4 linked regions of the Homo sapiens genome follow. The protein of the gene in region 2 interacts with the protein of the main gene of each other region in a pairwise test. Each region holds a gene or a part of one and is shown on either strand. Other genes may lie near its edges. The genes, in order: RAD18, MLKL, THOC3 and PSMB1.

The links.
Region 1: the proteins of MLKL (region 2) and RAD18 interact in a two-hybrid assay, tested with the Homo sapiens proteins (one large-scale study listed by BioGRID and IntAct).
Region 3: the proteins of MLKL (region 2) and THOC3 interact in a two-hybrid assay, tested with the Homo sapiens proteins (one large-scale study listed by BioGRID and IntAct).
Region 4: the proteins of MLKL (region 2) and PSMB1 interact in binary tests that used the Homo sapiens proteins (3 or more experiments, as listed by UniProt).

The regions. Positions count from the first base shown.
Region 1 is NC_000003.12:8,897,403-8,901,108, reverse strand, and holds part of RAD18 (E3 ubiquitin-protein ligase RAD18), read left to right. Parts: intron 1-2,061; coding exon 2,062-2,215; intron 2,216-3,706. UniProt on the Homo sapiens protein: E3 ubiquitin-protein ligase involved in postreplication repair of UV-damaged DNA. Postreplication repair functions in gap-filling of a daughter strand on replication of damaged DNA.
Region 2 is NC_000016.10:74,676,861-74,680,566, reverse strand, and holds part of MLKL (mixed lineage kinase domain-like protein), read left to right. Parts: intron 1-1,586; coding exon 1,587-1,668; intron 1,669-3,706. UniProt on the Homo sapiens protein: Pseudokinase that plays a key role in TNF-induced necroptosis, a programmed cell death process. Does not have protein kinase activity.
Region 3 is NC_000005.10:175,959,031-175,962,173, forward strand, and holds the end of THOC3 (THO complex subunit 3), read right to left. Parts: intron 2,405-3,143; coding exon 2,243-2,404; intron 2,122-2,242; coding exon 2,021-2,121; coding exon of another isoform or gene 1,929-2,020; exon of another isoform or gene 1,160-1,928; intron 1,103-1,159; coding exon 939-1,102; 3' UTR 501-938; downstream 1-500. UniProt on the Homo sapiens protein: Component of the THO subcomplex of the TREX complex which is thought to couple mRNA transcription, processing and nuclear export, and which specifically associates with spliced mRNA and not with unspliced pre-mRNA.
Region 4 is NC_000006.12:170,546,602-170,550,307, forward strand, and holds part of PSMB1 (proteasome subunit beta type-1), read right to left. Parts: intron 2,513-3,706; coding exon 2,405-2,512; intron 1-2,404. UniProt on the Homo sapiens protein: Non-catalytic component of the 20S core proteasome complex involved in the proteolytic degradation of most intracellular proteins. This complex plays numerous essential roles within the cell by associating with different regulatory particles.

The sequences.
Region 1 (3,706 bases), on a different chromosome or scaffold from region 2:
TGCATTTCCCTAGTGACTAATAAACAATTTGTGCATAAAGTGCTGCCTCAGTATGTAACTCATGGTCATTGAACAACTCGAACTTGTTCATGCAGTTGTTAAAGGATATTTCTAGAAACTAGTTTAGCACTTGAGAAAATCTGACTGAATATTTCCCATTAAGAAAAGTTTTTTTAATTAGTTGAACCTCTCTTGAATATCATTGATGGCTTGTATGTATTTATGAACATCAATATTACTCTTTCCGGGGTTCAGAGGTGATTGCTGCTTTTAGATTGCTGTGCATGAATGAGATGTCTGAGAGGGTAAGGTATGTGAGAGAGATGAAGACAGACACAGACTGACTGAAAAGATGGATTTTGTATAGCATCATACAACCAATATAATTGTTGCTCTTTAGAACATTGAAGTGCTCATGTAAGTGAACAAGTTGCATATTCTCTCAAGTGAAAACTTAGCCTGTTTTTGTTGTGTGTCTCTGGGGAGCTCTGATGTCTGAGCCTCACTCTTCGGGGCTCTATTTTGGAGTCCTGCATTCTGAGATCTAAGGGCAAGTAGGAAGGATAACTTATTTTTTATGCCCACAGATTATTGAATGCTGTTTGTTCCCAAGAGGGAATATATCTTCTAGAAGTGTATGTAAGAGTGGAAGAAGTAAGAAAAGAATACAGACAATGTGCAAAAATAAAAGATTGTTTTAAGTTGAATTCCTGTTCCCTGGTTTGCTAGCTTGCTTGCATGCACCTCACTAGTTGAGTAATATAGTCCCTGGGTGAACCGAGTTGACTGGGGGATTGGCTCCTCTTAATGTGATTCTGGTATCTGTTTACAAGAGGAGTTCCTAGAGGTTCAGGATGGTCATCCTGGCTAAATTCTTTTTCCCTTTTCCAGATATACATTAGAGGGTGCTGTTTTGTTTTGCTAATGATAGTTTATTGACAGCCAGATGACATTAGGAGCATATTTTTAGGAATTACACTCTTGTGAAGTATGCTGTTCTCTCAGTGTAACAAAAACTTAGAACTATTTCTGAAAAAAATTTAACTGTATGAACTTGGCAAGGTTTTTTGAAGAATTTGTTATGTTCTTTCCCCATAAATTCTCTCTGTATAATCAAACCTTGACAATTGTATTTTTAGTGTGCTTTGTTGAAGACCACTTGCCTCTACAAGTGCTTGATGAGTGATGTGTGAAAGCTCTGTTTCTCTGTGAGGAAACACATGAAAGGAGCTCTGTAGTATTATTAGCACATGTAGCTTGCATGTGAGGTACCTCCTCAGTTCCTGAAAGTTAAGGACAGCACAGATGAAAATCCCAGCAGCGTTCATGATGAGTGGGAGAATCCTGGGCACTAAAGAATCTTTCACAGATATTCTTCCACTCATATTTGTAGAAAATTGGCCATACCCATATGCCACATTTTTGTAAACACTGCATCCTTCCAGCTTTTTGGGGTCTTTATTTTTATCTGCAATAAGAGACCTTGAAATCTGAGAATATGACAAAGAATGCACGGAAATGTGATGTGTATTGGATCAAATGGAAATATTCCTTATGTCTGTTTAGTTGTCCTTTTCCATAGAGAATAATTAGATTCTAGTTAACCTAGAAAAATGTTTAGAAAAATGTCCAGATAGATTCACTATCATATAATAGTAGCAAATATTGTGGTTGTCTTATTAGTTGAATCTGTAGTCTTTTTTTGGTTATACTTCTTATGTTGGTTTGTCAGTGTTCTCTGATCTATGAAATATGCAAGAATTCCTTAGTGATATGTTAATAGAGGCCTCATTAGAATTACAAGATTCTTCCTGCTTCTGGTTTTAAAATAAATTTTATTTTTAAACTAATTAATCTTGGAAAAACATGGGCTGGACAGTATAATTAGATAGCACCATTGTAGTGTTAATTCTTGCTCTCTGGCTGTCACTAGAGTTCTGGAATCTATGTGACATATACTTCAACTTTACTAAGTGCACATGGCAGTATTAAGTGTTGCAGAAGTAATAGGCATACAGAAGTTGTAGATTTTAAGGTACTCTTAAATTTATTTTTTCCTAGGACAGGAAGATAATATGACCTCAGTAACAAACCACTTTTCTCAATCAAAGCTGGACTCCCCAGAGGAATTGGAACCTGACAGAGAAGAGGATTCTTCTAGCTGTATTGATATTCAAGAAGTTCTTTCTTCATCAGAATCAGATTCATGCAATAGGTAAGAAACATGCAGTAGTTGATTATTTTAAATATCTACTTCATATGCACATGTAGATAGATAGGCAGAAATAATTAGAATGTAGCTTTGAGGCATGGCATGGTGTGTCACTCTTACATTTCAGTCCCCTTTTACTGCTGGGTCTTCTTCACAGTGATAACAAGGCAGGATTTGGGAAGGTAGTGCAGGGATCACAGGGTGAGTTTGGTCTCTACTCTATAGCCTTTATGTAGATACTTTTCCTACCGTTGGAAAAGAAAGCATGATAGACAGTGAAATTTTTGTCAAGACGATGAGTAAAGGAGATAAAAACAACTATATTGGAAAACAGAAATGATCAGAAAGACATGGCGCATAGGAGGGTTAAGAAATGAAAAATTTAACTGAGTAAATAGAATAGATGGGGAAACTTTAAAAATGAGAAGTTTGGTAATGAGTCATTTTGAAAAGATATTTTAAAAAATATATAGGGTTTATTTTACACACACACACACACACACACACACACACACGCATGCACACACACATACCAGTTTTTGTTCCGGTCTTTCACTTAATGTTATGTCATAAATGTTACGTTTCTATAGGTTGGCACAAAAGTAATTGAAACCACAGTTACTTTTGCACCAACATAATAGCTTATGTTTATAATTGTTATTTTTTAATGAGTACAGTATTCTGTTATGTCTCTGCGCTATAATTTACCAGACCCTTCAGTTTCTGTTAGAGCTCTACATTTTTCCCAGTGTTCTACTTATGTACCTGATGCTATGGTAAAGCTCTTCCTTTGTTTCTATTGAATACTTTTTTTTTCATTTTTTTGAGACGGAGTCTCACTCTGTTGCCCAGCCTGGAGTGCGGTGGTGCGATTTCGGCTCACTGCAACCTCCACCTCCCAGGTTCAAGCATTTCTCCTACCTCAGCTTCCCAAGTGGCTGGGATTACAGGCCTGTGCCACCACGCCTGGCTAATTTTTTTTTTTGTACATTTAGTAGAGACAGGGTTTCACCGTGTTGGCCAGGCTGGTCTCAAACTCCTGACCTCAAGTGATCCACCCACCTCGGCCTCCCAAAGTGCTGGAATTACAGGCATGAGCCACCGTACCTGGCCACTTATCTTTATTATTCTGATATGTAGGCATTGCCCTCTGAATGAATTGTACTGATTTAAAATGCCTACCTATCAGAATCATTGCTTATTGCCAGTGTTATTTAATGACGCTGAAACTTAGTCAAGAGAGACACCCATTTGATTCTGGTAACTGATACCATAGAAATCAGGAAAAGATTCAAACTTAGAAGGGACTACCAGTCAAGACCAAATTCCTTTAGTAGCATCATACTATGTGGTATTTATTTATCTGGTCCAACTGGGCGTTCTCAGGGTGGGGTTAATGAGTATATTACATAGATTTGGCCTTGCTGTGCTGAAGACATGCCAGTCTTGTCACCAGCTTCATACTCAACCCCTCAGATTCTGTTATCAAGGACG
Region 2 (3,706 bases):
CCACTGCACTCCAGCCTGGGCGACAGAGCGAGACTCCGTCTCATAAAAAAACAAAAAACAAAAAACAAAAACAAAAAAACAAAAAAAAAATACCAAACGCAGACTTTCTTCTTGATGTAATCAGAAAGACTGGAGCAAACTGAAAGGAGAGTAATTTTCCCTTTATATAATCTTGCATACCACCTTATCCCACACTTTTGGAAACACTGTCTTAGCTATTAATTTGAAATTAAGTTTGTTTCTTCTCAACTCCCTAAACTAGTGAGTTTAAGGAGAAGTATTTTTGGATGTTGTAGGGGACACTGTTAATATCCCCTCCAAATGACCTCTGATCCTTTTTACCAGCTCTATTTACCCATCCCCCTCTCGGCATGCTTTGCTGCTGAAAGTTCACAGCTGCAATCTTCAGAGGATTGCCTGTGGGCACTGGAGCCCTTTCACCCTTATAGACAGCTGAAAGTGCCCACGAGTTTTATATCCATCTGTCCCTGCCCTCCCCAACACAGTCCATAACCACTGACTGGTGTAAGTATAAAAGTCCAGTTCCTTTGCTTCCTGTGGGACACACTCTGAGGTGTAATTGTGCCCACAGGTCTCCGCGAGACCACCTGAGCCTGGGATTTCACCTGAAATCAACCTCTTGCTTGATTTCTTCTCCTTCGCCATCCTACTTCCTGTACTCCCTCAACCATTTCTCCTGGGAGCACCTTCTTTTTGTTTGTTTGGGGGACTTTTGGAGTTATTTTTTTTTTGAGACAGAGCCTCATTTTGCTGCCCAGGCTGGAGTATAGTGGCGTGATCTCGGCTCACTGCAAACTCCACCTCCTGGGTGCAAGTGATTCTCATGCTTTAGCATCCTGAATAGCTGGAATTACAGGCACATGCCACCACGCCCAGCTATTTTTTTGTATTTTTATTAATAGTAGAGATGATGTTTCACCATGTTGGCGAAGCTGGTCTCAAACTCCTGACCTCAAGTGATCCATCCACCTTGGTCTCCCAAAGTGTGGGGATTATAAGCGCAAGCCACCATGCCTGGTCAAGGGAGCACCTTCTTGATACAAATCCCTCGTGCCCAAATCATGGCTCATGATCTGCTTCTGGGAGAATCTGAGCTCAGGCAGACACCATGAGTGCAACCCAACCTGGGACGCAGGGGCTTTGTGAAACCAAAGCCCTTGTCTGGAAGTCAGCGGGACCCCAGCTTCACATTCTGCTTTGACCTGAAGGGTCCCAGCAAGGTCCAGCCACCCAGCCATGCCTCTGAGCTCTCGGATCTGCCCAGCACTTCCCAGGCAAAGCAACACAGAGGCAACGTTGTCCTTCTCTACCTAAAGGCACCCCTGATGCCCGATTGCATGCACTTCATAAGGGCTGTCATGCCCCCTTGTGCTATGAATCTCATCTCTGTTCTATACTCACGGCTTGTGATTCTCAAACCTTGCCTCTACATCCCAGTTTTTCCTGTGTAACTGTGGACAGGCACCCATGGTACTGTCCAGCCTCATCAGCCCAGTTATGATTGTCAGTCCCCCAAAGAAAGTTTGGGCAAAGGTACTTATGCTCCCCGCCTTTGGCTGTGTCAGGCTACACCATTCAGAAGCACCTGAACTCCACGGAAAAATCAGAAGCTCAAACTTCCTGGTAACTCAAGGCTACCAAGTGAAGGTGAGTGTGCCTTGCGGGGGCGCTTTGGGTCAAACCTGCATGACTGGTGCTATGAGAGGGGCACGAGTGTCTCAGAAAGGCTTGATTCTTGTCTTAGTTTATTTATTTATTTATTTAGAGACAGAGTCTCTTTCTGTCACCCAAGCTGGAGGGCAGTGAGCGAGATCGCCCCGCTGCAACCTCTGCTTCCCAGGTTCAAGCGATTCTCCTGCCTCAGCCTCCCAAGTAGCTGGGATTACAGCCATGCACCACCACTCCTGACTAATTTTTGCATTTTTAGTAGAGACAGGGTTTCACCATGTTGGCCAGCTGGTTTTGAACTCCTGGCCTCAAGTGATCCGCCCACCTGGGCCTCCCAAAGTGCTGGGATTACAGGCATGAGCCACCATGCCCGGCCTTGCCTTGGTTTTAGAACTGAGTTCAATTTTAGTTTTTTAGTTTCAGAACTAACTTCAACTTTCTGTGTGCCCACCACACAACAGTCTCCATCTATGCCGCCTGTTCTGATGACTGCCTTCCCTCACTGCCCATTTAGCAGGGATGGGCTACAAGTCATTTCCCCTTAGATGCCTGGACACCACTTCTATGTCCCTACAACATACAATGGGGGATCTTGTTAGGTTTAAGGACTCAGACTCACAGGACAGGTCTAGGCCACACTTGTCATTCAGTTACTTAGAAGGATGTCAGCAGCGCCAAACCTTTCCCTCCAGGGTGAGTCCTCGCAGTCATCCAGGAGATACTCTCTTTGTCAGAGCCACAGGTGCTGGAGAAAGAGGCTCCCATTAGGTGGGTGTGGGTCATCCAGGCTTAGAAGCCCATGACCTGCAGGAGTCAGCATCTCTGGTAACAACTCTGCAGGCATGCCTTCCAGTGTTTCTGCAAGTGACATGTGAGTTGCTGTTTTAAGAGCTGCCACATCTGGGTATGGTGGCTCACGCCTGTAATCCCAACACTTAGGGAGGCTAAGGCGGGTGGATCACCTGAGGTCAGGAGTTCAAGACTAGCCTGGCCAACATAGTGAAACACTGTCTCTACTAAAAATACAAAAAATTAGCCGGGTGTGGTGGCGCACGCCTCTAGTCCCAGCTCCTAAGGAGGCTGAGGCAGGAGAATCACTTGAACCCGGGAGGCAGAGGTTTGCAGTGAGCCGAGATCGCGTGGTTGAACTCCAGCCCGGGCAACAACAGCAAAACTCCATCTCCAAAAAAAAAGAAAAAAGAAAAGAAAAGAGCTGCTACATGGCCAGGCATGGTGGCTTATGCCTGTAATCCCCGCACTTTGGAAGGGAAGGCAGGAGGATCACTTTGAGCCCAAGAGTTCAAGACCAGCCTTGGCAACACAGTGAGACCTCCCCCTCTTCAAAAAATTTAAAAATCAGCCAGTCATGGTGGTGCACACCTGTAATTCCAGCTACTCAGGAGAGTGAGGCAGGAGGAGGATGCCTAGAGCCCAGGAGGTCAAGGCTGCAGGGAGCTATGTTTACGCCACTGTATACCCTAGCCTGGGCAACAGAATGAGACCCTGTCTCAAAAAATAAAAAAGAGGCTGGGCGCGGTGGCTCACACCTGTAATCCCAGCACTTTGGGAGGCCAAGGCAGGTGGATCATGAGGTTAGGAGATCGAGACCATCCTGGCTAACACAGTGAAACCCTGTCTCTACTAAACAATACAAAAAATTGGCCAGGCGTGGTGGCAGGTGCCTGTAGTCCCAGCTACTCCGGAGGCTGAGGCAGGAGAATGGCATGAACCCAGGAGGCAGAACTTGCAGTGAGCTGAGATTGCACCACTGCTCTCCAACCTGGGCGACAGAGTGAGACTCCGTCTCAAAAAATAAATAAATAAATAAATAAATAAGAAAAATTTGCTACAAAGCATTCCCATCAGCTGTTTACTGTGTAGTCCTGTTACCCCCTTGATCCTGCCCAGAAGCAATCTAACAATCAGCAGTCATTTTTATTTTCATCATCAGCAATGTTACTAAGAGCCATAGGTGACAGTCTACCTGTATCAGATTTCCAGGGGAACAGAGCTAAGA
Region 3 (3,143 bases), on a different chromosome or scaffold from region 2:
AACTTCTGGAAGGATATACATCAAAATTCTAATAGCAGTTACCTCTTGGTGCTAGGAATGTAATTTTTCTTTTTGCTTATCTTTTTCCAAAATTTTCTACCAACACTATTTCTATATGCCTCAATATTTGCTTTAACACCAAACAAAATTACAATATAATGAAAAACCACTGCTCTTAGGTAACAACCCTCCAAACATAAGCCCTTTTTTTTAGAGGGAAGAACTAATAAAGCTTTGCTTTCCATGAGGAACCAATAAGTGTTTTTCTTTTCAATAAGAAAGCTAAATGACTTACTCCCCTCTTCACTTTGCCACCAGGAAGCTCAGAGCCAAAATTTTAGTTTGGTCATTCAATTAGCTTTGTCCCTATATTTCAGAGGCTTCTTGGTTGGGACATTAAATGACAGAATTATAACATTTAAATTCTCTTTCTGAAATTAAAAAAAAAAAAAATACAAAACTGCAACTCAAGGACATAATAATTTTAAAAGTCTTAGAAGTTCCATAATAACAAAAGTCAGTTTATTAAATGCTCAATTCTCAAAATTATATATATATATTTTTAATTATTTAAAAAAACTTCCATGCCCTTCCATTCCCCTCCCTCCAAACTAGGTATTGTCCAAGTTGTATCAAATGCCACAAAGTCTACCATGCACCCAGAAGCAGAGAAGACAGGAGGTCCAGAGGACAAGGTATGGTGGGGTCACTACTCGCACTGCAGAGTCCACGCGAGTTAACTCATGCTGGGGGCAAAGAATGGAAAGAGCTAATACACAGACAAAGCAAAAGAATGAAATGCGCAGCCTGACCAGAGACGTTTACAATTTATACCAACTTACAAATATTTAGGGTGCCCACCAACTCCGAGAGAACAGACCAAACTAACCACATGAAGGAAGACCTCTGCCGGGGCCTCCTCTCCCTACAACCTCCTCTCAAGAATCATTAGGAAGCCCAAACAGCTTCACAGTTCCGGCTTCCCGGCTGCTGTCATATTTGCCGTCTTTGTCATCACAGGCAAATGCCAGCAGAGGCCTTTTGGGGTGCCACGCCACTGTGAAGGTCGGAGACTCACACTGTACCTCCCATAGTTTGTCCCCTACAGAAAACAATAGAGAGAAACCAATCAATACGTTCAAAACGAAGGACACATTCATTAAGTACTTACCAGTATTAACTGGTTTAATCCACCTACTAATCCCATGAGATAGATACAACTATTACCTCATTTTACAGAGAACCCCCAGGCACAGAGAGCCCACAAGCCAGTGGAGGACAGAGCCGGTTCTGAGCACAGGTGGGTTAACTCAAGAGCAGGTCACTGAGCAGGAAAGTGTCTCCGCGTCACAGGGACATGCAGTTACATGAAGGATCTGCATGGCTGGATGCTGGACAATGTTCACCACAACGTGACTAACAGGGGCATGCATTCTTTACATAGTGGAATTTCAAGTTCTTTACTTTCCTCTTCGAAGTTTTCTATACAGTTTTAATCTTTTTACGAAGAGTGTCAAAGATTTCCAAAAACAATAAAGCAACATTAAAAAACAAATCTGAGGAAATTCTTTTGCAAAATGAATACTCTCCTCCCATTTTTCTATTTCCAGCTTCTGTTGTTTTTAAAGCAAAAACTTTATAATTCCTCAAATTTTAAATAATATTTTTTCAAGTTCATATACAGGCAAAAGATAAAGAGAAATATATCACAACATTTAAAACAGGTGGTATTTAGAGAGTGGGACCCCAAGTGGTGCTTTTTTCTTCCTTCTACTCTGTAGTTTAAAGTTTAAATAAATCAAAATATTTTTCTAAATCACTTTCCTCAGACCTGCCTGTTTATTTCTTAACTCTTTGCTTCCTCACCACCTGGCAGTGACAGTCAAAACAGAAACATACTTGTCTAAAGGAGACAAATTCATTCATGATCATGCTGGTGAAGTAGTCACATGCAGAGATGAGATCACAAGAGAAGTCCTGACTGCCAAAGGTGAAAGACGGTAGATTCTCATGAAGTTACCTGTCTCCACTTCAGCAATGTCAATAAAATGATCTTCCGATGCTGACGCCAGCATTTTCCCATCATGGCTGAAACTGAGGGTTCTTACAGGCCAATCCAGCCTATGATACAGAGTGGACAGAAGAGACAAGAGAATTACCAAGTAAGAGGAGGGAACAATGTCACTCAAGATGAAATAAAATTAATGTACCCAACAAGGGAAGTGCTGATAGAGTCACTTACCTGGAAAAGCACCGAACACACACTAACTCATCCACATCCCAGAGGCTGACCAAAGCATCTGCACTTCCTGTGGCAAAGTACTTCCCCATGGGGTCAAACTTGATACAGATGCAGTTGGAAGGATGGGCGTTGATGGACTGCACAGGCTTCAGTTCTGGGTAGCTGAGAAAAAAGACAGCGATCAAACTGCAGAAGAGGACTGTGGTGCTGAAACAATAATAGGAGATGATGAAGAAGAAAAGCAAAGATAATAGACCACCACCAAGAACTGTCATTCAAGATAACATTCCTGAAATAAAAAAAGATTTTGAACTACATTATTTAAAAAGCACAACACATACCTGAGACTACAGAACCAAAGTTACCAACATCGAGACAGAGACTAGCAAAACTAGTGGACTTTAAAGAAAAAGAAAATTAGATTATTGGGCTTTCTGACAGCAACACTTAATGCCAAAAGAAAATGGAGTACCATATTTAAGAAAGATACACAAGCGAGAAAACGAGCCAAGGATTTTTACATCCAGCAAAACTGAATTTCAAATATAATGATACAAACAATAAGCACAATAACGTTTTATAAAATCTGTAAGTTTTAGAAGTACGTAAATAAGTTGTAATAAAAACTCCAGGAATAATGTTCCCATGAACGCTTCCCGAGGAATCTTAACTAGAGAATGAGCTTCAATTAAAAAAATGACTAGAGACTTATAAGGACTGGTGCTCAACACTGAATATACAGTTTCTTGCAAAAACTATACATGGTTTAAAGAGAGGGTATAATATGTAACATCTGCACATGCTTACAACATATAGTACTATTTTTTTAATGGGGGAAGAATGGAAAGAGTATATGCAAAAACCAAAAACATTTTTTGTTTCAAGTCATCACATTGGTGGT
Region 4 (3,706 bases), on a different chromosome or scaffold from region 2:
ATTACAGGCACCCGCCACCACACCCAGCTGATTTTTGTATTTTTAGTACAGATGGGGTTTCACCATGTTGGCCAGGCTGGTCTCAAACTCCTGACCTCAGGTAATCCACCTGCCTTGGCCTCCAAAGTGCTGGGATTACAGGTGTGAACCACTGCACCCAGCCTCGTGAAGGTAGATTTAAACAACACAATCCAAGGGCCACACAGAAAAATTTCATAAATTTGACTACATAAAATTCTACAGGGAAATTTAAGAATAGCTTTTTAAAACCCTAAGAAAATATATTAGTAGCATCTACCCCCAAAGTCTAATTTTAATTCTATAAAAATTCTTACAAATAAGGAAAGCAATAACATAAAGGAAAGATGGGTAACTTCTATGAACAGACAAGTCACAGAAAAAAGAGACATTAAGTCACCATAAACATAAGAGCCTCTATGTTACTCAGAAATCCAAATCTCAAAAAGAGACTATTTCAACCAATTATACTGGCTAAAAATGCCTAACTAACTAAATGCTGGTGAGGTTGTGGAAACAGTATAAACTGATTAACCTGTTAGATGGGCAATTTGGTGGTATTTATTAAAAATTTAAATACACACCACTCTCACCAATTCTATTGCTAGAAATCCATCTTGTTAATATACTTATCCAAGTATGCAAAGGGATGCTCTAGACTCACCAGTGAGTACTCATTTAAATAGCACCCCAAAACAAAACAAAACCTAAATGTCCATCTGTATGGAGAGGATTAAAATTTGGTATAGACATACAAATTCAACCGTGTATTTCAAAAATTAATTCCTAGATCTTGATATGAATCTATAAAGAAACCTAAACAATATTTTGCAGAGGCCACACAATTCCTCTTGGAAACTTACGAATGACTCGCACAAACCATACCTGTCCTACTAGGAGAGCAGCTGACACCTCTAGGGTCATCACTAACATCACCTGATCTATGCCTACCATCAACCTCACTGCACTAAGGTGAAGACGTCCAATCCCCTATAAGGCTTTACTGCCTTTACTGACAAGATTGGTTGACAATACCAACAGGGAAAGACAGAAATCTTAGAACTTCAAGATGCTTTTCCCAAATATCCAGGTGCATCAAAGGAATGGGAGTTTTCATGCAAAGAATACAGTCTGAAACAGGTTTGGAAGAGGCAAGCTTAGTTCTAGGTCAGACCCACAGGACGTGGGATGAGGGATATATACAGGCATTCGTTAATGCTGCATTGTTCTTATTCTCTATCTCTATATCTGACGTGTTTCACAAAAAAAAAAAAAAAAAGTGCTCACTTCACCAGCAAACGTAACTAAAGCAATATTTAAAAGATGAGTAAAAGCTAGTACAAGGATGGTATCCATAAAGTTGTTTTAAAATCTTATTTCTAATATTTACTACTTTCAAGTTGTACAAGTGTCGTCCTTGAGGAGAAAAAAAGGTAACACAAGAGCACCATAAACAGAAAGCAGAAAGGGGGTATCAAAAGATGCAAGTGGAGAGAAACAGAACTGGGAAGACGAAAACAAACTTCATTGCTTTTTAAGATGTGGGCCATCCCTAGGAGCAGGAAAGACAACGTATCTTTTCTTCTGTACCTACTTCCTACAATACAAGGAGGGTCCATCCAAAGGACCTAAACCTCGTAAGTCCCATTCCTATTACAATTCAAGTTTAATTAACCCAGGAATTCATGACCATTTATAAGCATTTCCAAAACTGGTAAATACAGACCACTGCCAATCTGCAGTATGTATTCAGTATTTATGCAGGCTTTTTGTTTTTTTAAGTTTTGGCTTTATTTTCATGTTTTAGGAAAAACATAGCTAGCCTATTAAAACTGAGCTGTGGACATAATTGCTTAGGATATTTCTAAAACGAATGTTTCAGGTAAAAAAAAAAAGTGTGGGGAGGCAGATTTAAAAAAAATATCATTTAATGGATTAATGGTGCTGTGGTTTGAATATTCCCTTCAAAACTCATGTTGAAATTTAATTGCCATTGTGATGGTACTGGGAGTTGGGACCAGGTGTTTAGGTCCTAGGGCTCAGCTTTCATGAATGGACATTATCACAGCAGTGGGTTCGCTTGCTCTTCTTTCTTTCTCTGGCCTTCCACCATGTTAAGACACAGCAGGAAATTTTTCATGGTAAAATGCTGGGGTGAACACATTTAGGTTACCGAAAGCACTTTTGGTACCCTGAATACAGCAAATATTATTAAGACTGCACATTAAATTATTAGGAAACATTAACTTAGAAAATGGTTTTCTAATAAAAATGCTCCCAACAGCAACTTAAAAACTCATGAAACAAATCATTTAGAAGTAGAAACTCTCACAACATCAAATCATTACAAAGGCATTGTGAAATGTCTTTAGAAATATTTACTTACAATTTGTAACATTTGGGGCTATCCCGCGTATGAATTGAAAACCCTTCACTCAATCGAGTATCAGAAGCAACAATTGCAAAATCTTCTCCAGCAATTGCCAGTATAGTACTGAGGAAAAAAGAAAAAAATTAATTCTCCAGGGTGGTAATCCTATCCCTACAAATAGAAGAATGCTCCATAGTACATAATGGGATAAAATACTCTAGATGTCAACAAAAACATGATTCAAATGGGAAGAGGAAAGATGAGCGGGAAGAGAATGAACGCCTGGCTACGAGTTGTCTGGGAAAAAAAAATTATTAATAAGCCTAAATCAGGGCAAAGTCTCCTTGGCAGGAGTTAACAGAAAAGCCAATGAATTATCATCACCAACACATTAAATACTTACTCGCGCAAGGTACTACTAATACAGAACAACTAAATACCACATCTGTGCCCTTGAGGATCAGGTATAGACAGTGGTACTACAACGCAAGCTCTATGAGTTTAGAGAAGATGAGATTTTTTTTTCTTGCTTCATTTCTTTATATCCAAGTCCTTATATAACGCCTATATAATGCTTATTTCTTTATACCCAATCCCTTATATAATGACAAATAGATGGACAAACAGTAAATTTTTCCCTCTGTGGCTGTACAATTTGACAGCTTATCAAAGAGACTTACAGTAGAATTCCAAAAGCAGACCGCCTGGGTTCTAATTCTGGCTTTCCCGTTTCGCAGATATGAGACTGTGGGTAAGTTACTTCTCAAAGCGTCAATTTCATCATATATACAACAGAGATCACTGCAGTTGCTACCTCATTAGGGTGTTCAAAGGATCAAATATGTAAGCCCTTATAGCAGTCCCTGACATGTAACTGGTCCTCTAGTAAGTGTTAGCTATAAGTGCTATGGCACTGGAGTATGACTAAGCACCTGGGCTCTGGAATTACATGAGACAGAGACCCACTCTTGCTACTTACTAGGTATGTGATCTTGGACAAATCCTCCAAATGCAAGTTGATGATAACAGTACCTGTGTCACAAGGTGTGTATATATATTTGGGTGTGTATATTTTAATGTACAAGGCTTGACTGATAACTATAACCACTGCTTCAATGCAATAGTGGAAATTAAAGGCATGGTGCCTCACAGACGTAAGCACTCAGGAAACTTAAGCCACTATTTTTACTGAGGAGGGATTTGTGCTAAAGCTCTCAAGAAGAAAAGGATGGCATTCCAGGTAATATAAACAGCAAGCAATGGCAAACAGGTAATTATTCAAATAGTACATACATTCAAGCAACTCATTCAGGCAGC